Linked DNA regions of Homo sapiens. The protein of the gene in region 1 purifies or fractionates together with the protein of each later gene. This does not show direct contact. Each region holds a gene or a part of one and is shown in the gene's direction. Other genes may lie near its edges.

Region 1 (3,500 bases):
TCACTATGTTGGCCAGACTGGTCTCAAACTCCTAACCTTGTGATCCGCCCTCCTTAGCCCCCCCAAAAAATTACAATAATTTTGTCAACCAATACAGAACATGAGCCCTTTTTAAATGTGATTTCCCGTCATCACAGCAGTAGGATGAAGCCTTGTTTTGGGTGAGACAGAGGGAAAGGGAAAAAACAGAATTGTAACAGTTCCTTGATTCTGCAGATACTGCTGCTGTTTTACGATTTCAGTAATAATTCAAAGCAGCTGTCTCCTTGTTTCTCACATGCATACTACATTGGTTTTGAGCATCTGAGAGGCATTGGTTTGTCTTGCATTCTTTTGCAAGGCATATATTGCAGCTGATATGAATCTCGTTTGGGGGGAATCCTTGTATTCCTAACAAGGGGGATTAAAGCTACACCTCAATCCATTCTTCTGAAGTGAAATTTACTTGACACAGTAGGTTTCGAGACTTACATATGAAACACTGGCTTTACAGGGTTCTCAGAGATGTGGGGTATACACTGTCCTGCAGTGAGATAGTAGACCCTAGAAGGATACTATTTAAGTTGTCCTTAGCTCTTTTTAATTACAATTTTTAGTTGTTAGAATTTCTTTTTAGTATCTATAGTATCTTAGATGATTTTAGATCTTAAATGAGTTTGGCAGCCTCTTTAGAATCTGAGAGAGATCACTGTCAAGTTGCACTTTACTGGGTTTTATCCAGTTTTAGGAGGAGGGGAGGCAATGTCAAAATGTACACCTTTGGTTTTTAAGAAGGTTAACTATAATAATGTTAAAGGCTAGTCACAGGGTTACCTAATGCTCAGTCTGTGAAACCTAAATAGAATTCTTAAAATGTTATTTACCAACTAAGTATTCATGTTCAAATTACTTACCTTCCACTCTGAAGACTTTAAGGTCATTTCTAATACACATTTACCTAATTAGGAGTTCTGTCTACTAGTAAACATTCCAAATTGCTACCCAACATTACTGTTAACAGATTTTCCTCCGTATTCTTCTAAAAATTATACCCCATGGGCTTGCCAGGTAATGACGAAAACTTAATGGGTGTACTTTTTTTTTTTTTTGCACAGTCTACTTTGTGACATTAAGTACCTCTTTTCCAAAAAAAAAAAAAAATGTGTTTTATGTTGCTTACCTGAGGATCACATCCATTATCAAGAAGATTCTGTCGCTATAATTTGAGGCATCTAGGGCAGCATTTTGAGAATTGCTGTTGATAAGATCCACTGTTTCTTTTCATAGAACATGATCTGTTTTGTATGAGTCTTTCCAAATGTTAAGTACAGATTCTTCAAATTTCTTGTACAGTATTGGTTTGCAGTTTAAAGTGATTTTAGGACATTAGTGTAATGCAAATGCTTGCATTGCACTGTTTTCCATATGTATAAAAACAATGCTCCTAAAATCCCTAATTCTTTAAAACTGCCTGTGTTTCATTATAAAAAGTTGGCTTTGTGTAATTACACCGAGCCATACAACCTATAAAGTGAAAATACTGCAGATTTTAGGACCCCTTCTTCTCTAGTCACAATCATTTTAAACAGTGTACCCCAGGATGAAAAAAGCTCCATGGCTGACATGTACAATTACATGTATTAATGACTGCTCTACATCCTATGTTCTGCCTTTGGCCACCACCTCTATTCCACATATAATTCATCATTCTTGTTTGCCTGCAGACTCTTGCAGTGCCTTGTAATATTTACAATCTTTTCAGGTTTTTGCTGGAAAGAAAAGTAGTCTTCTAAAGTTTGAAGATGGTGAATAGTGTACTGCTGTCTCCATGCTGACTGCAGTAACCGGGTTATCATATATGTTATGTATACATTATGTATATATAACATGTGTACATTTAAAAATACAGAAAAAAGTGAGCTTGTGCAGAAATGGAGAAAACAATGTTATTCTCATCACTGTGGGGTTTTATTAAAATTATTTTTTCCCATGACTTACATGTTTGGTTCAGATTATAGTCACTTTGACTGTAAATACTGGCTAGTTTTCTATCCAGGGCTTTTGCATTATTTCATAATTTTGCTAAATCATATAATAGTGCTATTTTCATCCTTGTCTGAGGTACTTTTCCTCCCCAGAAATAATTAACTTGAGGTAAAGCTCAGAAATTCCCTTCTTAACAAAGAGCCTACTATATAAAAAGGGCCTTCCTTTCCAAAAAACACACAAACCTGTCCTTTTCATTTTCCTTCTTGTAGAGGAGAAAATGGTTGTACTTAACCATCCTGCTTGTAAAGTTTATTCAGAGGATAGTCTGTATGTCCAGCCACCATGTTTACTTCTCAAAGTGCAAGTCTGATGAATAGTACTGTATCTCCATATGTGGTAATGTGAGCATTTCATCATGAAGTACCTGCTGCTATGTCTGTGAAGTTGGGTGTAACATCATAAGAATATGAAACCAGTATTGGTGTAAATCTAATGAAAATAACCCTATGTATATTTGTAGCAGTCTTGAATCTCTATTTAAGGTAATTTGCTGTAATATAACAAATATTCATTCTGTTTTTCATCCCTTCCTTGCCAGTTTTATATCAAGCATGAATTCCAATGGTTTGACAGCAAAATTATCTGTGAAAGTTTAAAAGGCACTTTTCTGCTGTGATTTTTGGATTGAGTGTGGAGTGTTATGTACAGTTTGATGGGATATATCATTTTAGAACCCCAGATTTAATTCTAGTCCAATTAATTTTGTTTAACTACCTCGTTTTCAGTGCTGTTTTGGGTGCACAAGTAAACACTACCTGTGAAACTTGCTTTTTTGCCTTGATTCTCAGTATTCTTTCAGATTATAAATCTGGTCTGCCTCTTTTTTCCCAGTGCTAGCCAACAGTTTGAGATGAGAGGGATCATCACTCTCATCTGTGTTTAAGTGGAGAGCCATGTGCTTCTGTGAAATATGCTTTGGGGATTTGGGGGTGGAGAGCAGAAGAATAATTGAAATTGGTGGCAATATAGGATTTAGGTGTAGGAGTTAGTTATAAAATAAACAAATGGTAAGAAAGTACCTGAATTAGACAATCCAGTGCCTATAACTTTGCATTTTTTATTAGAGATGCATTTCTCGTCTGTGTGCCTAAAGGGCAATGGGTTGAAATTGCTTTAACTACCACAGCGAAATATTTGACAAATCCTTCAGCAATGGCCTATCATTCAACATATATTAGCACAGTGCTAGGTATTTGCAGTGGTATTTTGTTACCTTAAAACGGCCAAATGCATTTAGTTGAAATGTAGTTGATAGTAAGGGTTTTATATAACTTTATCCAATCTCTAAAGTTTATGGAAGCATTGACTTTCTTCTTTGCTGTCTTTTCTGAGTGATGAAAATGATGCATTCCTTTTTTTTCCTTGAAAACTCAGCAAATGTTTGTAACCAGATGTTCCTTGTTTCACATGTTTACTGTGTAACACTACAGCATATTTAATATTGGTAAATACTGTATTTCAGTCATTATGCA
Region 2 (3,500 bases), on another chromosome or scaffold:
AGTTGGAGTTGTCAGTCACCTGAACCAGCTTAGAAGCTTCTCTGCTCTAATTAGAATGTGACTGTTGCTGGTTGTGTGACGAGTGCAGAATCCAAGACGTGGGGCCCTAGAGTATTAATTAGTGAAGACAAGAACTTGCAGAAAAGACTGGCTAATAACAACAGAACCAACACAACATGAGTGTTCGGGTTTATATTAAAATATGCACTGGAGACTGGTCCCCTGTGGTGTCCATAAAGGAATAGCTTTAATCATATGGGAAGAAAAGGTTAGAGCTCCAAAACACACACATCTGTTTGAAGCTGGGGTTTTTTTCCCTCCCACCAAATAATATTTACTGTGCAAAGGCAGCAAGGCCACAGTGTGTTTTGAATGTGAAAGAGGCTAGAAAATGAAGCACATTTCATTTTGTAGCGTACCCCACTTGTAAGCACTTTAAAAATTCAGTTTTTGAGCTATGCTAAAACCTCATAATTAGTGTTCCAGACGTGTACTGGGGAAACCAAGACATTTGTGTGCTTTTCAGTTATTAACATGCTAAAGTGGTTCTTCTTTTGATTTGTTTTCTTAAAATATGATAGAAAAACACAATAGCACTTATGGATATGTCTATTTTGTGTGGTCATCATCAGTAATCCTTTTTAGGTCAATCTTTAATTGACCTTGCATAGTACCATTATCTGTGGTCCTTTTTAGTTCATCTTTACATGCTCTTATAAGCCAAAATTCCATTTTAGAACTTAGAATTTGCTGAAGAGGAAATGACAAAGTTAAATAGCACAACTTGCCCCTTTCTATTGTTTTTTAAATATTGAAGTTTCTTATGTTGAAGTTTTTGTGTCTTTTTTTTAATCTTAAAGAGCTTGATACATATTAAGTGAATTCTTAGGTTTTGCTTATCTCTTACCATCCTCATAGATGAGCATGGTAAGGATCAAGGTATAAATATTCGACAGAAGGTGAAGGAATTGGTTGAATTTGCCCAGGATGACGACAGGCTTCGTGAAGAGCGAAAGAAAGCAAAGAAGAACAAAGACAAGTATGTTGGGGTTTCCTCAGACAGTGTTGGAGGATTCAGATACAGTGAGTATCAAAGACAAGCTGACACCTAAGCATCAGCTTAGCTTCTTGAGTATATTTTAAGAATCAGTGAAATACCAAAGACCAAAATGCTAATTTTCTTTTCTAGGAATACATAGAATACTAAAATACACGCAGTACTAATCTTGACTTCTACTATCACATGAATCTTCCTATTTTTAACTTGTGGGTTCGGCAATAGGATTTTAACCATTAATGGCTAATTAAATGACTGCATATTTTGAGGTGTCATACAGAGATTAAAACAGATATATGCCCTTCCCTCTTAGGATTGCCATTTTAAAAAGAAGGGGGAAGAAAGTTTCTATAACTCAGAGTTTAGAGTATAAAAATAAAAAGTTTGATCAGGAGATCCATCTTTCTAATTTGAAACCAATTTAGCTGTATTTTTGGCCCAAACCAGATAAGCTTCCTGACAGTCATTCCAGCCTCAGTCTCTCTTTCTTTATTTAAGCATTGCATACTTTGACATATAAAAGATGACTGACGATACTCGCAGTTTTTCATCTAGGCCTATTGTTTTGTTTATTCTTCCCAGTACACTTAAGAGCAGCTAGAACATTCATCTTTCATGTTTATTTTTAATATAATAATATAGTTTCTCTAAAATAGGGCATAGGTGCTTGAAGCAGATACACAAAATAGGAACTGTCTTTCACGGCATGTCCCTTTGGACTTGTTCTGTCTTCTGTGAGCTCTGACAATCTCTTGCTCATTTTGTGTATGTGCAGACTGGCCAGTGCTGTGTATCTTAGCAGCTGTTCACTGAGGCTCTCCAGCTCCCCCCACCCATATATGTTTATATTTGGATTATATTGAGCTCTCATATCTCCTTCAATGGAACCATGTAAAAATCTTAACATATAAAATATCCTTACTCATTTATTCCTCTGCTTTCCCACTCTCAAAGAAAAAACACTGCGTTTAGTTAGCTGTTTAAGGATGTTTCTAACAGCAGAAAAATTCCCTTTTTTATATTGAAGCATCAAATACAAGTTAGTTTTTTCTTTTTCTTTTTTTTAAATAGGGCTAACTCATAGGCAGTGCAACCAGAGTCGGCCACAAGTTAGTTTTTGAATTGGGCAAAAATATTTCTCCTAAAGCATATAAATAATGTTTTGAAGTTTCTATTTGGGGAAGTCCAAAGTTTTTGGATTATTTACCCAAGTAGTAACTTTATTCTTCAGGTTTTTCAAAGTAGTTGTAGCAACTTAATGTGTTTTTAATAGAAATTGCTATTTGAAACTTATTTCCACACTATTCTTGCTTGTATCTTTCTTTTTGCCAGCATGATATATAATTATATCAGCTAAACTTAGAAAATTGAATACGTTTTCAAACTCAGTCACAATGCACTAACTGCAGCATCTGTATTAAAGATAGAGTTGGATATCCTGTGTGTTTGCATCACATCCTTTTGCTAAGTTATTGTTCATGGTTTATGTTATTCAGACTTAACTAATCACTCTTAGCAGTTTTGTGTTTTTTCTTTTTCTTTTCTTTTTTTTTTTTTTTGAGGATTCTTGCTCTGTCATCCAGGCTGGAGTGCAGTGTTACCATCTCAGCTCACTGCAACCTCCGCCTCCCGGGTTCAAGTGATTCTCCTGCCTCATCCTCCCAAGAAGCTGGGACCACAGGCGTGAGCCACCATGCCTCGCCAATTTTTGTATTTTTAGGGTTTCGCCATGTTGGCCAGGCTGGTCTTGAACTCCTGACCTCAAGTGATCCAGCCACCTTGGCCTCCCAAAGTGCTGGGATTACAGGCATGAGCCACCGCACCCGGCCAGTTTTGTGTTTTTTCATTCTGACATTAGATAATGTCTTGCCAATATCCAGTATCTTTAGCAGTAATTCAGTATGATGTTCACCATGCCATGCTAATCAGTTTGGTTTTCATCCACTTCCATTTTTCGTGTAAATTTGTTTCTTTCCGAAGTCTGGTTCATCACACTGTTGTTGAAATGTACATACACATTGTTGGAAAATCACTTTTTTTAAAAAAACCATCCTGGTTTAAATTTTGTCTAGAAAACTTCATTTTGTCATGTTTTCTTTAAGTTGATGGTCATTTCCAGATTCAGTAAATATGTTAAAATCCTTAAACATGTAACAGAAAATTTTAGCCTTGCAATTTTAGGAGGCAATTCAGCAAAATCGTTTTGTTCAATCTCCAAAGGCTATGTATCCTTTTAGATCCTGTAAACAAAAGTTCAAAACAAAAGCTCCATTAGCCACTTTTTAGTTATTTTGTTGTTTCTCATTGTCCTTTTCATTTTCTTCCAACCTGCCTTAATTTTTAATGTTTTCTTTTTTAAAAATACCTCACGTGCTCTCTGTACCTTCTACTGTTGCTTCTTAAGTTGGATTTGGACATGGAAATGGAAGGGTTTCATTTTGTG
Region 3 (3,540 bases), on another chromosome or scaffold:
TTGGCTCCTGGGGGTGACGTGGGGACACTGCCCCAACCCCCGTGGACAAGCCCTGGGTCTGCCTTGGCTCCTGGGGGTGGGGTGCTGCCTCCACAGCTGCCCTGTCCTGGTGTCTGCCCTCCATCCAGAGTGTTCCCGTCGCCCCAGCACCTGGCCTGTGCTCCAGCCCCTGGAGACCTTCACACGTGTGGGTGGAGCCGGCACCTCTGGACGGCCTCGAGTGATCGGTGTTCTATTTTGCAAGCGCATGTTTTCCAATATACGTGGTGCTCTGCGTTATAGAAACAGTAGTTGCCCCTCATGGACAACCAGATGCCGAGTTTCCGATCTCCATCTCCACAGGCTCACCAGCTGGATTCCCTCCTGGGGGCTTCATTCCCAAAACGGCCACCACGCCCAAAGGCAGCAGCTCCTGGCAGACAAGTCGGCCGCCAGCCCAGGGCGCCTCATGGCCCCCTCAGGCCAAGCCGCCCCCCAAAGCCTGCACACAGCCAAGGCCTAACTATGCCTCGAACTTCAGTGTGATCGGGGCGCGGGAGGAGCGGGGGGTCCGCGCACCCAGCTTTGGTGAGTCCCCCACTCTCTGTTGCTGTGGAGTTTGCAGAGACCTCCCTGAATTGGCTAAAGGTAGAACCTATGTTGTTTTCTTCATCTCAGAGCCCAGTCCTGGGACAGGCACGGCCAAGCCACTCAGAGAACGACGCGGTTTCCGATGTGTGTTCACTGGTCTCTCTCTGGGTCAGGCCTCTGGGTCCCTCTTGTTCCAGTGACACCTTCTTGACCTGTTTTTAACAAATGGCCTTTGCAACCCTGTCTTGTCTTCCCTCTTCTTTACTCTGGAGGCATCAGGATGGTAGCCCTGTTCCCGGGGGCAGCAGGTGGAATTGGGCCTGTGTGTCTCTGCAGAAAGTTTCTGTTCTTAACTGGGCTTTGTGGCTCACGCCTATAATCCCAGCACTTTGGGAGGCTGAGGCGGACAGATCGCTGGAGCCCAGGAGTTCAAGACCAGCTTGGGCAACAGTGATACCTCCTCTCTACAAAAAATGTAAAAATTAGCCAGGCATGGTGGCGCATGCCTGTGGTCCCAGCTACTTGGGAGGCTGAGGCAAGAGGATCGCTTGAGGCCGGGAGGCAAAGGCTGCAGAGAGCTGAGATCACGCCATTGCACTCTGGCCTGGGTGACAGAGTGGAGACCCTGTCTCAAACAAAAAAAAGTTTCTGTTCTTTTCTAGCTCAAAAGCCAAAAGTCTCTGAGAACGACTTTGAAGATCTGTTGTCCAATCAAGGCTTCTCCTCCAGGTCTGACAAGAAAGGGCCAAAGACCATTGCAGAGATGAGGAAGCAGGACCTGGCTAAAGACACGGACCCACTCAAGCTGAAGGTGGGTGGGTGGGCAGCTCTTCCTGGGAGCCCAGAGGCCTCAACCCATGGCCCCTGGAGCATCTGCTGTGCCTTATGGAGCCGGCGTCTCCAGACAGCAACCTTTCACCCCTGGAGCATCTGCTGTACCACATGGAGCCGGCGTCTCCAGACAGGGACCTGTCACTGCCGATGGGCCTGGCAGCCCTCAAGGACAGGGTGGCCTGAGGCCAGGGGGGCAGGGCAGAGTCAGGCCCCAGGCTGTGCTGCTCCCCACGTGCCCAGATGGCTCAGCGCTGGTGGGGGTGGGGTGGGCGGGCGTTACAGGAGTGAGTGCCCCGGGGTGTTTGCAGAGACTGTTGAGGGCAGGCGTCTCTTGGGGGCTGCTCTGGGTACTGAGCCTCCCAACCCAGGACGCTCACTGGGGGGTGAGGATGCAGCGGTCAGGCTGTCACTGTGCCGGCCCTGAGACACGCCCTGCTCTGTGGCTTGGCCGATGCCCAGCTCTGCAGGCCACATGCGCCTGTGACCTTGGGGTCCTTTCACAGGCACCAGGGACCATCCCCTTCTCCCTCGGAGTCTGGGGCCTGGGATGGGCCAAGGGGTTGCACCACCAGAACCAGGGTTTGTGTCCTCGGTGAACATCTGGCTGAGACGAGGGTCCCTCTGGCCCCAGGCCCTGAAACATGAAGACCACCTGGCCCTGTGTCGTCCGGAGTGGGCTCTATATAGTTGAGGGCAGGGCGTGCAGTGGGACAGTGTCTGTGAGCCGGGCTGAGCCCACCCCACGTGACCAGGCACTTCCTCAGCGTCGTGCCTCAGTTTCCGCGGTGCAGAGGAGGAGGGCAGGCAGGTGCCCAGGGCTCGGCAAGCTCCGTGTCTCCCGCAGCTCCTGGACTGGATTGAGGGCAAGGAGCGGAACATCCGGGCCCTGCTGTCCACGCTGCACACAGTGCTGTGGGACGGGGAGAGCCGCTGGACGCCCGTGGGCATGGCCGACCTGGTGGCTCCGGAGCAAGTGAAGAAGCACTATCGCCGCGCGGTGCTGGCTGTGCACCCCGACAAGGTGAGCAGAGCTGCCAGGCGGCCGCTTGAGGCCTTCAGGGGCGGGGCGGGGGGGGGGTCCTGCCCCGCCCGCCCCCGCATGCTTATAAGAGGCGCTTACACCGCCTGTCACCCATAGGCTGCGGGGCAGCCGTACGAGCAGCACGCCAAGATGATCTTCATGGAGCTGAATGACGCCTGGTCGGAGTTTGAGAACCAGGGCTCCCGGCCCCTCTTCTGAGGCCGCAGTGGTGGTGGCTGCGCACACAGCTCCACAGGTTGGGAGCCGTCGTGGGACCTGGGTCCCCACCGTGAGGACCCCGTGGGCGACAGCAGGTGTGGCCAGGGTGGGGCTCCGAGCCCCGGGTCACCGCCCGCCCAGCGTTCCAGGCACATGAAGAGAAAGCATTCCAAAGCCTCTGATTGTTGTTTCCTTTTTCTCCTCCCGAAGGAACAGCTGATTCATGCTCCTCCCGCAATTGTCACGTCTGTGATTTATTTGGTGTTTCGGGCGTGGCCTCTGGAGCCCCGGCACGTGGTGGGCCACGCTGCTGGCGCTCATGGGCCCTGGTGTTTGCACCGCACTTTGTAATCAGTCCCGTGGTTGTCTGTACAGAATTAAACTATTTTCCGATGACTGCTGTGTCTCCAGTGTGGATCCACTCGCCCAGGTGCCGTTCACCAGCTGGGGCACAAGGCTGTGCTTCCTCAGCAACCTTGCCGTGGTTGGATTGTTGCAGGGGCCGAGTGGAGAGGAGAAGCGGGTCCCGGGGCTGCAGCGGCTCTGGGCAGCTCTTCAGGGGGCCATAGAGCCCAGCCAGGGCAAGGCCAAGGGCGGGGGCCCCTGCAGTCCCCAGACCCCCTTCCTCCCCTCGGCCCCGGGACTCCTCTCTCCTCTCCACTTGGCCCCTGCCCCTGGGCCCTGGACCTAGGAGCAAGGGTGGGCTCCACACTGCCCCTGTGCCATCCCCGCAGGGCCAAGGTGGCCTCCGGGCTGTCGGGCTGGTGGAGGACCAGGGGCCCCTGGAAGGAGAAGGTGACCATGGTGAGCCCCCACCCCACAGCAGACTCGAGGAGGCCCTGAATCATAGCCCTGAACTCACCGCCAGGCTCTTCCTGTTTTCAGAGAATAATGAC
Region 4 (3,500 bases), on another chromosome or scaffold:
GAAATGTAGAACGTGAAATAAAGATGAAGCCATTCTGAGTCATGTGCAGACCGTGGGAAATATCTCCCTGTATTTGACAAAAGGGGAAATGGCAGCCATAGCTAATTCTGAAGATGAAAAGTGTTCCTGCCTGGGTTACTTGATGAAGAATATTATTAGCAATCAGCAAGTCAAGTGGAAATAATTTGTTTTGTTTTGTTTTCTCCCCTTCTAACTATTGGCATGTTGGTAGAATTAACTTGGCTGGCAGGAGAATGAACCGCCTGTGCCGTTGGGACACAGGAGATTTCTGAGCTGGCAGACTGCACACTCCATGTAAAACCATGACTCTTTCCACCATTCTTGTGTACACGTGTGCCTGAACATTGGTGTCTGCAAAATCCGAGACGTCTGTTTCAGAGAAAAATTGCTGGAAGCCACTGATTTAGAATTTTAATAGGATTTTTAAAAAATCTGTGCTTAAAAAACATGTAATTTAATCAGTGTTGTAGCCCCCCTGCCCCCCCAAGAATAGCCTTTCTTAGGTTTCTTAGGTTGTCTTACGAACACTGACAGAAATGTGTAGGTTCAGGGCACCTAGAGCAGATGTGGAAGTTCTTTCATTAAGGTAGCCTGCGTGAATCATCCCTGTGACTCAAAGCCTGAAGCAGTTTTAGCCTGATCTCCTTGGCTGCATTTTTAGAATCTTAGACATTCCAAGCTGAAAGGGATTTTGGGAATTATATAGTCCATCTAATCTCCAGAATTTACAAATGAAGGAACTGAAGTCCAAGGGGAGAAGTGAATTGGCTTGCCCAAGGATATACCTGTTGGCAAAGTGAAGGCTGGAACTTTTGACCTTGTACATTCAGGAATTGTGGCAGAGCCTTTCCTGCTCGTCTTAGAATGTAATGTACTATAGGGAGCCCGCAGCCATCCTCTACGGTCTGGCTTTATTGTCTCTTTTCTCCCTATTTTTTAGTCTCCTTCTACCTTTTCTCAGCACACCTTTCAAGTGGGATGGAAGTTGAAACCCACTCAGCAGAGAATATGAGAAATACATGTGTAATGACACAAAGTTAGGTGTGTTAGCATTATGTCCAGCAAAGGAGGACACATACCCAAAGGTTGGGAGAAGTGGGAAGAGGCCTCTGAAATATTTGGCCTTGTGCTGAATGAGTCGAAGGAGGGATCAGGGAAGAGGTACCCGCTGGATTAGCTGCTGCCAAGTGCCCGTGGCAGCTCAGGAACTTAGACTCTCAGCAGTCTCTGTTCAGGAGATGGGAGGGACAAAGCGCTATCATTGGTAAGAATACAGCAGTTGCTCAGAAAAAAGGACTGTCCATCATACTGCAGCTGCAGAGTGGCCTTGGGTATATAGAAACATTGTTAATGTTCTGTTGGGAGCATCTTAGACTGATTAGCAGCAGAGCTGATTTTCACTCCCAGGGATCTGGGTCTCTCTCTTTCTCGGTTAATGGCACCACTGTCCACCCACCCAGCCATCTAAGTCACATCTGGGATCATCCTAGATTCTTTGTTCTATTTCAACTCTAATATATAATCACAAGTTTCTTCCAGTTTTACTTTCTTCTTCTTCTTCTTATTATTATTATTTGGAGACGTAGTCTCGCTCTTTTGCCCAGGCTGGAGTGCAGCAGCGTGGTCTTGGATCACTGCAACCTCTGCCTCCGGTGTTCAAGTGATCCTCCCACCTCAGCCTCCTGAATAGCTGGGATTACAGGCACATACCACCAAGCCTGGCTAATTTTTGTATTTTTTTGTAGAGACAGGGTTTTGTCATGTTGGCCAGGCTGGTCTGGAACTCCTGACCTCTGGTGATCTTACCCACCTTGGCCTCCCAAAGTGCTGGGATTACAGGCGTGAGCCACTGCTCCCAGTCAACCTTCTAATTATTTTTAAGTCTGCCCTCTCCACGCTATTATTACTAGTTTCCAGCCCTAGTTCAAACTCCTGTCATCTTTATTCTAGATTATTGTGAAACATATTAACTGGCCTTCCTGCCTGCTGTCTTTCTGGCTTAAGTCCATCCTTACATTGATGTTCATAGTACTCTTTTCAAATTATCAAGCCCTTCAGTAGTTCCTAGTCACTAGAGGATAAAGATTCTTAGCATATCTAGAAAACTCTCCCTGATCAGCTCTCTACTGACTTCTCTAGATTCCATCCTATTTCTCCACTTCCTACTTATGCTTTTCTCCTGCCTCTGTATTGGTTATCTATTGCTGCATAACAAATTTTTAAATGCTATAAATTCTATGACCTCCCAAAATAGTGATATAGGCGTTAAGAAGAAATTATTTGGGCAGATAGTGAGAGTACAGGAGTCCTCGGTAAGGTTTTCCTTTTAATGAAAAGCAGACCCCAAATCATTTTCTTTTCTAACAAAGAGCAGCCTGCCTATAAAATTGAGCTACACACATAGACAAGTAAGCTGGAAGCTTGCACAGGTGAATGCCGGCAGTTGTGCCAATAGGAAAAGGCTACCTGGGCTAGGCATGTTCAAAATGGCAGCTCCGTCTTCCCTTTTCCTTTCCAACCATGTGTACAGTAGGGAACAGACAGTAATGCTGGCCAAGTGGAAAGCCCATTTGCTTAATAAGGTTAGGGTGAGGTGGCCAGCTTCCCTGCATGCTATGTAAATGTCACACCTGGTCCAGCCAATCTGTGGGCCAATCTTTGTCTATATAAATCAGACACCACCTCCTCAAGCCTGTCTATAAAATCTGGTGCACTCCACGGAGGGCCAGATTTCCCATTCAGATGCCCCTCTCTTGCAAGAGAGAGAAGTGTTCTCCTTTCTCTTTCTTTTGCCTACTAAACCTCTGCTCCTAAACTCACTCCTTGTGCGTGTCCATGTCCTTAATCTTGGCATGAGATGGCGAACCCCAGGTATTTACCCCAGACAGTGATGCCACCTCAATAGGAGAGACAGCAGCACATGAGGGAAGTATAGAGGGATTCATTTAATTAGGAGTTAAAGTCAAGGTTGGAAACTAGTTTGGAGGTTTGCAGTAGTCCAGGCAAGTCACAATAAAGAACTGGATTAGGCCATGAGAGTAGATTTAGAGAGGTGAAGGTGAATTTGAAGAACATCTAGGAGATTCAGTTGGTGATTGATTGGCTGTGGGAATGCAGGGCCAGAGAAAAATGGATAAATAAAGAATACATCCTGGATTTCTGGCTTTAGTACTTGAGTTGATGGGAGTATTTCCAACCAAGATGAAAAATAGGGAAGTAAGGACAAGTTTAGGGAAGGAGATAATAAGTTTAGTTTTTGAGTTCTTCTTAACTACTTTTGATTTTTGTCAATATAATAAAAGTAATGTTATAATTCTCATGATAAAAAATTTTAGTCTTCTTCTCCCCACCTCCCCATCCTTCTCTTATCTCTGAGACCTCCTCTCATACTTTTACCTGTCTGTTCTAGCCTTTAATTCCAAATTTCCAAGTAATCTGCCTAATCTGTTTCTTGATTTATTGGTTTTAGGGTTACACCT
Region 5 (3,500 bases), on another chromosome or scaffold:
AATTCTCAATCAAGTACAACTTAGAATCCATGTCTCAGGAAAGCATTGCTCCCACCAGTAATCTCTCGGCCTGAGAAACTGAAGAATCCTTGTATAGCTAGGTGTGGCAGCTCACACTTGTAGTCCCAGCTACATTGGAGGCTGAGATGGGAGGATCACCTGAGCCCAGAGGTCGGAAGTTGCAGTGAGCTATGGTGGCACCACTACACTCCAGCCTGGGTGACAGAGCACGACCCTATCTCAAAAAACAAACAAACAAACAAGAATCCTCTTTATCATTTGTGAGCTCTTTTTACCCGCATGGCTTCTCCTCCTTACTTTCCAACCTCTTGCTCTCTGTCTTCTTATAGATTGGAGCTAAACATGGTGTTATTTACTTGATCACAAAGTATGGCTATCTTCATCTGTACGACCTAGAGTCTGGCGTGTGCATCTGCATGAACCGTATTAGTGCTGACACAATATTTGTCACTGCTCCACACAAACCAACCTCTGGAATTATTGGTGTCAACAAAAAGGGACAGGTGTGTAACTCTGACATTTCATTTTCTACCTTTTCCATTCATTAGGGACTGGCGTTTAAACTTTCCCCCTTCTCTAGGAAAGCAGCTGGGTGTAGCTATTAATAGTTCCTGTTATTAAACTTAAACCCATGTCTCCTCCTTCATATTGACACTTCCTCTCTTCAGACAGCACCATTCCTAACACAGGATTGATTCCAGGAGGAGAGCAGCTCCTTCCTGCGTATAGAACAGCAGTTCTGATGCACATCATCTTTATACCATGCACACCCTAACTGGGGAGGGTTGAAAAAGCAGATACTATGGTATTTAAGTAACTTTTCTCAACCATAGTTGAAAAAGATAGTTAAAAGAAGAAACTCTTGGCTGGGCACAATAGTTTATGCCTGTAATCCCAACTGCATGGGAGGTTGAGGCAGGAGGATGGCTTGAGCCCAGGAGTTTGAGGCTGCAGTGAGCTGTGATCACACCATTGCACTCCAGCCTGGGTGAAACAGTGAGAGCCTGTCTCAGGGGAAAAAAAAAAAAAAGTCGGGAACAGTGGCTGATTCCTATAATCCCAGCACTTTGGAAGGCTGAGACAGGAGGATTGCTTGAGGCTAGGAGTTTGAATCCAGCCTGAGCGACATAGTAAGACCCTGTCTCTACAAAAATATTTTTTAAAAAAGAAAGAAACTCTGTACTTTAAAAATAAAAAGTTTAAGAAGAAAAATTGTCAGTTCCATCCACATAGGTCATTTTGCTGTAGCGCAGAACGCATCACACTTATCTGTGTGACTTTAATAACTACATAGACTCCTATGCTGTTCTGTTTTGTTACCATTTGGCTTTCGGCTGCTTTGCCTCCTTTCACTGTGAGGGCCACCATCACAGGTGTGCTCAACACTCGCCTGAGAATGTGGCTACCACTCCAGCATCGGAAGGGAACATGGCAGAGGGATGGTGGAGCACTCTTCTAGGCCGGGCTGCTCTCACTTGTTGTGTCCTTACAGGTACTGTCAGTTTGTGTTGAGGAAGATAACATTGTGAATTATGCAACCAACGTGCTTCAGAATCCAGACCTTGGTCTGCGTTTGGCCGTTCGTAGTAACCTGGCTGGGGCAGAGAAGTTGTTTGTGAGAAAATTCAATACCCTCTTTGCACAGGGCAGCTATGCTGAAGCCGCCAAAGTTGCAGCGTCTGCACCAAAGGTGATAAACCTTGAATACTGTTCAAGTGTTCTGAGTGTTAAGAACCAACCTTGAGAGGAAAATAAGTCATAAAAGCATTTCACTAGTGATATTGCAGTCTATTAGTGTTATGTTAGGAGTTTTTAGTTTAAAATTTTTGCACCAATGGCATAACAGTAAAGGAAGTAAACAAAAAACACACTCTTGCTGCATCGGCACTTCTTCACGCCTCCCACTTTGTGTGCATACGTACCTCTCACCCAACAGCTTAGATACAGTTTCACATTTCTGTAACTTAGCATTTTCCACTCTTGCTACCTGGTTGTCAAATATGCAACTGTACAATACATCAAGTGGTTGTTCCCTGTTTTATCTAGCGATAGTCCTACCCTGGACTTTCTCCACTCTTTTAGAATATAGCATTTCGGCATATGGCTTTTTCTTGGGTTTATTTCATTTGGATAAATTGTTCAGAGACTGGATCTGTTCCTGAGTAGATAAAGACTTTCAAGTTGCTTGTCCTTGAAAGAATTTTTCTTGTCTTTCAAGGGGTAGTTGTGAACAAACCATTTCTAGCCTTCATCTGTGAATTTGAGTATTTTGAATTAGAATATAATGATAGCAGAACTTCACTACTACAAGACTGATTGAGAGGCCGAATTCTTACTGCAGCATGCTGGGGGAGAAGTAAGACCCTAAGTGTGAAGCCACCTGGAGGACCTAGATTCCCCTATACTTATGGTTATTGTTGAAGATAGAAGCAGTTGCCTTGGTAGAGGACTTTTTGTCTATGACAGAGCAGTGTGGAATTTCCACTGGCAGATTTTTGTTTTTACATACAAGGAAGTTGAGTGAAGGGATCCCCTGTGATTACAACACAATGACCTATTTTTCCATTTATTATTAGGGAATCCTGCGTACCAGAGAGACGGTCCAGAAATTCCAGAGTATACCCGCTCAGTCTGGCCAGGCTTCTCCATTGCTGCAGTACTTCGGAATCCTGCTCGACCAGGGTCAGCTCAATAAACTTGAATCCTTAGAACTTTGCCATCTGGTTCTTCAGCAGGGGCGTAAGCAACTCCTAGAGAAGTGGCTGAAAGAAGATAAGGTAGAAACACTTGTGAGCTCGTAGCCCCCCCGCACAGCTTGAAAACTTGGTCCAGGCTCCCTACCTGCCTCCTAACTTTGCCTTGTCCCTTGGCATACCACAGCTGGAGTGCTCAGAGGAGCTCGGAGACTTGGTCAAAACCACTGACCCCATGCTCGCTCTGAGTGTGTACCTTCGGGCAAATGTGCCAAGCAAAGTGATCCAGTGTTTTGCAGAAACAGGCCAATTCCAGAAAATTGTGCTCTATGCCAAAAAGGTAACGTGTGTTGAACCACTGGCATCTCACAGATTACTCACGTGTGGTTGAGTGGTTGCTGATTTTAAAGTTTATAAAATACCCTTCTTTGTAAGTCCTCTGGTGTGAGAGTTGGCAATGTTGCTGTTAGGATCTTTATTCATAATGATCATATTTTATTCTCTTCAGCTTTTTATTATCCTTAGTTTTCCAGTCCTTCCATCTTCGTTTTATTTGGGAGCTTTATCTTGTTTTTTCTCTCCCTCTCTTCCTTCTGTATGTTAATTTGATATTTTGGCAGACTCCCAGATCTTATCCCTGTGTGCTTACTGGCAGGCTGTGTTTGCACACAGATCAGGAAACTTCTTTGTGGTCTGGGCTCTTTGTATAGTTAATTGTGCCTTCCATGTACATTAAATCAATTCATTTAATTGGATATTGTGTTTGGCAGAAGGTGGTACCTACAC
Region 6 (3,435 bases), on another chromosome or scaffold:
GTTTACTGTTTTCAAAATATTTGAGATTTCCTTTCTGAATTCAAGGGGTATACAGATGTTCACAAAGATTTTTTACTGTGATATAAATAAAAACAGCGACACATCCTAAATGTGCACCTGTGCCGTGGCTGAGCCGCTGCAGTGAGGGCTAGTGTGCAACACCGATGCTGTGCTGGACGCGTGCCCAGCCGGGTCCCCTGACAGGAGGCAGCCGGGGCCGGTGCGTGTGTTTGCATGTTGCAGTCATGGGGCGGGGCCGGCAGAGGCCTGTGTGATTGTGGCGTCCCTGGAAAAGATGCTTGGCAGGCCCCTCCAGCTGTAGCCCAGCCTGCAGACGGGGCGTTCTGTGGGTCCTTCCCCGTGCATATGCGTGTGATCTCACCCATCCCGTGTGGGTGCGCAGGAGGGGCCGAGGGAGGAGGGTGCTGGAGGGCGGAAGTTACCTCTGACTGGAGGAGATACCCGGCCCGTGTTACCAGCACTGGTGTGCTCGTTCTAAAACTGGAAAAAATTTGTTCTTAATTTTAACAACAGTCATACATCACAACAGTGAACTTAAATTCAGCTGAAGATTGTGGGGGGCTCTTGTTTTTCAGGGTAAATATTCAGGGTAAGTGTGAAATGGTGTGTGTGAAAAAATTGTTTTTGTTCCTTCTAGGTCGGATGTTTATCTTTTATGGTAATAAGACCTCCACGCAGTTCCTAAACTTTACCCCAACACTAATCTGTTCAGACGACCTTCAGCCTAATATCCTTGGCTTCATTGCCCCATGCCCGCAGACAGCATAATGTGGGGCTTAGAGGAGGCTTTTGAGGAAGTTTTTTGGTTTTCTTATTTTGTTAAAATAGCGAGATAATTCCAGATGCTATATGAAAATCAGGCAGTCGTAATCTGCCTATGGTGCTGGGCAGGAGAAGGAAAACAGGCAGTCTTCCATATTGGAGAGCCAGCTTTTGATCATGCACCTAAAAATACCGTGTACATGCCTCCTCCCCTTCCATCTGGCCAGTGTGAGTCCCTTTCCTTTTCACCTGCTCTTACTCTCCTGTGACGTGATCTTTAAACCCCTCCTCTCCGAAGCCTCACAGAGCTGCTGCTTGCAGAGTGTGGGAGGCGCCAGTGGGGACTGGAGCGCGGTGCGCACCCCAGCCGAGCTTGTGTGTGCTTCTGGCAGAGCTTTTAGACTGAAGATTTTCCCTTCGTAATGCCAGAAGCGTTCCTAGAACTTCCCCAGCTAAAACAGGGAGACGCTAACGTCTCTACCTCTAAGGATAGGCCCGCCAAATAGAGTTAGCGTGAAGACCCCAGCTTGACCAGAGATGGTGACACCTGGGGATTTATGGTCAGCGACCTGAGTGAAGCAACATCCTCCTTGCCACTGGCTGGTCTGTTCATTTTAACATGAACATGTTTTAATGCAGACTGTTCAAGCTGTTTCAAAACAGTCATTAAAAATACACATGCAGGAGCACCTGTATTAAAGACTTTGTTTGGAATCTGGAGTGGAAGCTCTGACTCCTACTGCGCCCTTCTTTAGGGGTCTCTCCCTCGGGGTCCACTTGGCTCGAGGCGGCAGCGAGCCCAGCAGCTGAGTGGCCGGCGGCACACGACCCAGAGGGAAGGAGAGGCCTGCACCCCGCTGCCTCCTGGACCCAGCTTTGCTGCTGTCACTGTTTCTTCAGGAGAGGCTGTAGGCAAACCCTTGTTTTCCAGCATGAAAACAACCCTGGTCCCAGCAGGGCAGGCTCTTTTCTGTGTCTCGCTGTTTCAGGAGCCTGCTATTCCTGGGATTCTTAAAGTTTTCCTGCCCTACTAAGCACCAGTTTCTGCTAACGGTGACAAAAATTGTGTGTGTAAGACCCAGAGCCGAGGCTCAGAGTGAAAACAGACAAGTAGTATATAATCTAAGTGACTTTTTAAAATGGAGGAGCCATTCTGGAAGCGTGAGAAGCAGACAGTGTTTTGAGGATTGTCTGGGTGGAAGGGCAGGGCCGGGTGGTGTGGCTGCCCTCGACCCGTAGCTGGTGGTCCTAGAGTGTGGTGAGTGTGCTCGCCTCCACGGGTCCTGCTGGGGCTCTAGCCCGGCCCGTTTCCGCTTCTGCCACTGGGACTTGCTCAGCTGGATTCCTTAACGCACGCACACCTGAACCTGCAGACCAAGCCCGTGGACCCGACCGTGGAGGGGGGCGCGCAGGTGCAGCAGGTGGTCAACATAGAGTGCGTGTCCGACTTCACGGAGGCGCCAGTCCTCAACATTCAGTTCAGGTAAGAGCCGCCTGTGCGCCCCGGGCCAAGGGGTGTGTGGGCGCCTGAGCTGTGTGCCTGGGCTCCATGACTGTGCCTCCGTGTCCTTCCTGAGGGGACCCGGGGCGTGCGGGTGCTCACGGTGCATGGATGCGGCCTGAGCTATTGCTGCCCCCGGCTCTGCAGAGCGCAGGAAACAAGGGGAGGCGGAGCCCTGGGCTCCGGGACGGCAGGTGGCAGCTCCCACATGGGGCCTTGCTAGGATCTTTCTGGGCACCATGGGGCCCACCTCATGGGGTGGCAGACAGCCAGGGCCCCCGCGCCACCTGCCCGGCTTGGTACCAGACGACAGCTGTGGGGTGCAGGCAGCTGGTTTCCTTCGGCCCCCTGGCCTGGGGGGCGCGTTTTTTGCTCAGTTGAGCTCAGATCGTACCACTTTGCTTATTTTTTAAAAGCATAGGATTTTCCTGTTGCGACTGTTCATTACTCTCACTTTTCAGTGACTACAAATAGCGTGGATACAGTCAGCCCGTCCCCTGCTGGGTGTCTGCAAGGTTAGGAATGTTGAGAAAAGCACACTTTCTAACATTAAAAAGACAGAGAACTTAAGATTGTATACTGTAGAATTCGGGGACATAGACATGCAAGTTTTTGTTTCATTCTTTGTGCAAATGCCTTTGCCTTTTTAAAGAAAAAACATCACACTATTTGCACAGACTTGGAGTTCTGGGAAACAGATGAATGGGGAGAAGTGAGGCACAGGGACGTCCTGCCTGAGTATGCGGCCCTGGCCTGTCCTCCTGTCTGTGGGTGACACTGGACACTGAGCCACACACGATCCGTGGGGACTGAAGGCTCGGCCCCCCGACCCGCTCTGGTGGGTGGCAGTAGATCGGGACGCTTCTCACTCCAGGCTCTTTCCCGGTCCCTGGGGCTCTCAGAGGAGTAGCTGACTGTCTCTTTCTGCTGCTGCTGCTGCTGGCAGGTATGGGGGCACCTTCCAGAACGTGTCTGTGCAGCTGCCCATCACTCTCAACAAATTCTTCCAGCCGACAGAAATGGCTTCTCAGGATTTCTTTCAACGTTGGAAGCAGTTGAGCAAGTGAGAAACCTGTTTCCTGTAGGGGTCAGGGGTGGGGACGGGGCTCATTTGAAAAGGTGGGTTTTGGTCTCTGGCCTGGCTGAGAACA
Region 7 (3,500 bases), on another chromosome or scaffold:
TAATCTGAGTTGATAATGTGGGTGAGAGAATTGGTCCTTATATACCTTCTTTGAAGTAATGGCTTAGGCAGCCCCTCAGGTAGGCTTTCGAGTAGGAAAGTTACCCAGGTACTCAACTGTGATTCACTTGTGTTTTGCTTGCCAATTTTCACCCCATGGTACTATGTCATGTTTTGCTCTTTTTATAGAAAGAAATTCAAGCCATGAGTCAGTGCAGCCATCCCAACGTAGTGACCTATTACACCTCTTTTGTGGTCAAAGATGAACTTTGGCTGGTCATGAAATTACTAAGTGGAGGTAAGTGGATTTTGTTGTTGTTATTTATTTGCTTGTTTTCTCTCCTTTTGTTGGAACCAGCATATTGGAGAAGACTTTAGATTGAATCCTTTCTCTCCTGTGTTTGAAAGTTTGTTTGGTTTCTCATTGCCTAGAGGATAACGTCCAGATTGCTTCACATTGACCTTCAAAGCTTTTCATAATTTTGCTTAACTTCCGAGAATGTGTATGTCCTCTTCTCCAGGTATGAAATGCCCGACCTTCTAGGCTGAGAGGCAGCCCCCGGAATGTATTATGTGCTCTCATGCCTTTGCCCCTGACCTGTCCTCTTTCTCAGCCTTGCATCTCTCCTTTGTTTTCCATGTGCTCAGGCCTAAAAGGTCACATCCTCTCCACAGTCACCGCTTACTCTTCAAAAAAGTTAGCCAGTCCTTTCTCCTTGAGTCCTTTCTTTTTAACATTGTTCAGGTCCTTAACACATTGCAGTTTGCTGAATTATCTCAGTGCCATTTATCAGAATGTTCTGTGATGATGGAAATGTTCTGAGGTGCTGCTATCTACTTTTTACTAATCCCATGTGACTCTTAAGCACTTGACATGTGGCTAGTGTGACTGAGGGACTGAGTATTCAATTTTAATTAACTTACATTTAAATCACCTTGTATGGCTCCAGTATTGGACAGTGCATATTTAGGTTGTGGACTTTGTGAAGATTGTCTAATGCACTTTGAATTCATTGAACTTGGCGCCCAGTAGGTGCTCACTAAATGTGGTTTCAGTTGACATGGGGAGAAATGTGTGCTACATATTCACTTGCAGTGTTGATCAGAAATGGCACTATTGTCATCCTATTGTTGCATTTGGGAAGGGAAAGTCACTTCCTCTCTCTAGCTTCAGATCCCTGCAGTGATGCAAGCCATTGACAATTTAATTTACAAGGTGCTTTCACATCCTGTATTTTATTTCTTTTAATCTTCTAACATCACTATCAGAGAGGGAATGATAATGATAACCGTTGCCTTTTTTGAACACTTACTCTGTGGCTAGATCCTGTCCAAGGCAATTTACTGACCTTATCCCATTTAATCTTCACAGTGTCCCTGAATGGCCTGTGTCACCATCCCTGTTTTTCAGAAATTACACCAAATTTCAAGGGAGTTTAGCAACTTGCCCAAGGTCACACACATAGTAAATGTTGGTGCTGGAATTTGTGACTTTAACATCTGTTGACTTAAAAATTTGTATGCTGTGCTGCAAGTATTTACACCTTCGTTTTGCAGACATGGGCACTGAAGCTTAGAAAGCCCAAGTGATTTCCTTGGGAACACCCAGCATACCCACATCTCTGGTGTGTTCTCTTTCGAGGGCTTGATTCTCTGGGTATCTTTCTGAGACATGAAGTATGGTTTAGGATCAGAGGAGAACATTTTGCTGTGCCTGGACAACCCAAAACTAGCATAGCAGAATTTATATGATAGAGCCTATTTTAATCTGCAGATGTCGAGGGAGGTGTTTTAATGTTTTCCTTTTTTAAAAAGGAAACTCTCTTGGATCAAGCAGAAGCCCAAAAATGAGATGACGAAGGCATTGTAATTGGCTTGGGTCTGCTTGTGTAGGTCTCGGTGGGGAGCCCTGGGGAGCTTAGTTCTGTTCTGTTTTCAGTCTTCCTCAGTCTTATTAGTCATTGTTTCCTTGAGTGCCTACTTCAGTTTTTAATTAAAAAGAAAAAAAGAAAAAGGAAAAGAAAAAGGAAGCCTGCCAGAGCTGGACTGCAGTATTGAGTGCTGGGACTGCCCCTTTATTCAGCAGAGGAACTTGCGCTTTGCCAACAAGATGATCTTAAGGCATTCTCTTTTTGTGGGGTTCCACCAACTCTGAGGAAATGAGAAATTCTGATGACTTGAGACCCTGAATAGTCCCAAATGCTCTGCTCAAGCTGAAGATTTTACCTTTTGCTTTATGAAGCTGAGAATCTTCTGTTTTCTGAGGAGGATCTGACAGAAAATTTCTTTGTCTTTTTGAGTCCAATTTAGCCTCTCTGGGCTTTAGGTAAGAACAGATTTTAAACAGGTTTCCACAGGTAAGGACGTGGGCAGACGTGGACTCTTGTTCATTTTTCTTTTAGCAGGACAGAAATGCATGCATGCCTGGTATGGTATATCCTTATACAATAAAAAGAAAATGTTTTTGGAATTATCATTTTTTAAATGACACAAAAATCTAAGAGTCAACAAATAAACAGAGGTTTTTTTTTCCTCTGGGGAAAAATATGCATTTGTTTTCTTCTATTTCATTACATTGAATCTCTTAATGAGGGGCAGGCAGCTGTATCTGATGGGGAAGCTCAATCCTCTTAGTTAATTATAAAGAGCCTAGAGCCAAATTCAGGTCCTGAGGTAAGCCGTTTGTTAACTCTTCAGAAATGTCAAACCCCCAGGTAATTTTGGCTTTTAAACTGACCCAGGGGTTTGGAATACTAATTAATATGTGTTGAAACATGAATTCACAGTGCCAAGGATACTAATCTGTATATGGTAACAAAGTACTAGGTATCTGTTTGTTTATTGTAAGTGTTAGTGCCTCAAATATATCAGGTAAATGAAATAAAGATCAGCCAGGCTCAGTGGCTTATGCCTATAAGCCCAGCACTTTGGGAGGCCAAAGGTGGGCAGATCACTTAAGCCCAGAAGTTCAAGACCGGCATGGGCAACGTGGTAAGACCCCATCTCTACAAAAAATACAAAAATTAGCCAGGCGTGGTGGCACGTACTTGTAGTCCCAGCTACTTGGGAGGCTGAGGTGGGAGGATCGCTTGAGCCTGGGAAGTTGAGGCTGCAGTGAGCTGTGATTGCTCCACTGCACTCCAGCTTATATGACAGAGGCAGACTCTGTCTCAAATAAAAAAAGAAAAAGAAGGAAAGAAAATAAAGATCAGGTAGTGTCACAGGAAGGAATCTTCCGGTTATAAGCAGAGGTCTAGAAACAACATACTTCTTTCCCCCTCCCACCTGTGATTTAGGTCCTCAAAGAGTGTGTTTTTTTTCTCTCAGCAGTTCACTTCTGCCTTTTCTCCTGGCCTCATACTCCTTTCTTTGTCAGTTCAGACTTTTTGCACCCTCTTTGGAGGGTTGCTCTTAGGAATTTTTGTGAGAAATACTGTAACCAGAAAAGGAACCAGCCATGGAACGGCCATGAACAGCCTTCTGGTCCCTGACCCAGAATCC

What was found.
Region 2: the proteins of WNK3 (region 1) and CLINT1 purify together in Homo sapiens (affinity purification with mass spectrometry; one large-scale study listed by BioGRID and IntAct). This does not show direct contact.
Region 3: the proteins of WNK3 (region 1) and GAK purify together in Homo sapiens (affinity purification with mass spectrometry; one large-scale study listed by BioGRID and IntAct). This does not show direct contact.
Region 4: the proteins of WNK3 (region 1) and CPVL purify together in Homo sapiens (affinity purification with mass spectrometry; one large-scale study listed by BioGRID and IntAct). This does not show direct contact.
Region 5: the proteins of WNK3 (region 1) and CLTCL1 purify together in Homo sapiens (affinity purification with mass spectrometry; one large-scale study listed by BioGRID and IntAct). This does not show direct contact.
Region 6: the proteins of WNK3 (region 1) and AP2A2 purify together in Homo sapiens (affinity purification with mass spectrometry; one large-scale study listed by BioGRID and IntAct). This does not show direct contact.
Region 7: the proteins of WNK3 (region 1) and STK39 purify together in Homo sapiens (affinity purification with mass spectrometry; one large-scale study listed by BioGRID and IntAct). This does not show direct contact.

What each region holds. Positions count from the first base shown.
Region 1 is NC_000023.11:54,194,047-54,197,546, reverse strand, and holds part of WNK3 (serine/threonine-protein kinase WNK3), read left to right. Parts: 3' UTR 1-3,500.
Region 2 is NC_000005.10:157,810,646-157,814,145, reverse strand, and holds part of CLINT1 (clathrin interactor 1), read left to right. Parts: intron 1-918; coding exon 919-1,083; intron 1,084-3,500. UniProt on the Homo sapiens protein: Binds to membranes enriched in phosphatidylinositol 4,5-bisphosphate (PtdIns(4,5)P2). May have a role in transport via clathrin-coated vesicles from the trans-Golgi network to endosomes. Stimulates clathrin assembly.
Region 3 is NC_000004.12:848,777-852,316, reverse strand, and holds the end of GAK (cyclin-G-associated kinase), read left to right. Parts: intron 1-342; coding exon 343-567; coding exon of another isoform or gene 568-770; exon of another isoform or gene 771-1,008; intron 1,009-1,232; coding exon 1,233-1,381; intron 1,382-2,248; coding exon 2,249-2,425; intron 2,426-2,542; coding exon 2,543-2,644; 3' UTR 2,645-3,040; downstream 3,041-3,540. UniProt on the Homo sapiens protein: Associates with cyclin G and CDK5. Seems to act as an auxilin homolog that is involved in the uncoating of clathrin-coated vesicles by Hsc70 in non-neuronal cells. Expression oscillates slightly during the cell cycle, peaking at G1.
Region 4 is NC_000007.14:29,136,538-29,140,037, reverse strand, and holds part of CPVL (probable serine carboxypeptidase CPVL isoform b precursor), read left to right. Parts: intron 1-3,500. UniProt on the Homo sapiens protein: May be involved in the digestion of phagocytosed particles in the lysosome, participation in an inflammatory protease cascade, and trimming of peptides for antigen presentation.
Region 5 is NC_000022.11:19,232,720-19,236,219, reverse strand, and holds part of CLTCL1 (clathrin heavy chain 2), read left to right. Parts: intron 1-350; coding exon 351-524; intron 525-1,513; coding exon 1,514-1,711; intron 1,712-2,597; coding exon 2,598-2,798; intron 2,799-2,901; coding exon 2,902-3,054; intron 3,055-3,500. UniProt on the Homo sapiens protein: Clathrin is the major protein of the polyhedral coat of coated pits and vesicles. Two different adapter protein complexes link the clathrin lattice either to the plasma membrane or to the trans-Golgi network.
Region 6 is NC_000011.10:1,005,870-1,009,304, forward strand, and holds part of AP2A2 (AP-2 complex subunit alpha-2), read left to right. Parts: intron 1-658; coding exon 659-748; intron 749-2,142; coding exon 2,143-2,266; intron 2,267-3,230; coding exon 3,231-3,347; intron 3,348-3,435. UniProt on the Homo sapiens protein: Component of the adaptor protein complex 2 (AP-2). Adaptor protein complexes function in protein transport via transport vesicles in different membrane traffic pathways.
Region 7 is NC_000002.12:168,164,096-168,167,595, reverse strand, and holds part of STK39 (STE20/SPS1-related proline-alanine-rich protein kinase), read left to right. Parts: intron 1-188; coding exon 189-297; intron 298-3,500. UniProt on the Homo sapiens protein: Effector serine/threonine-protein kinase component of the WNK-SPAK/OSR1 kinase cascade, which is involved in various processes, such as ion transport, response to hypertonic stress and blood pressure.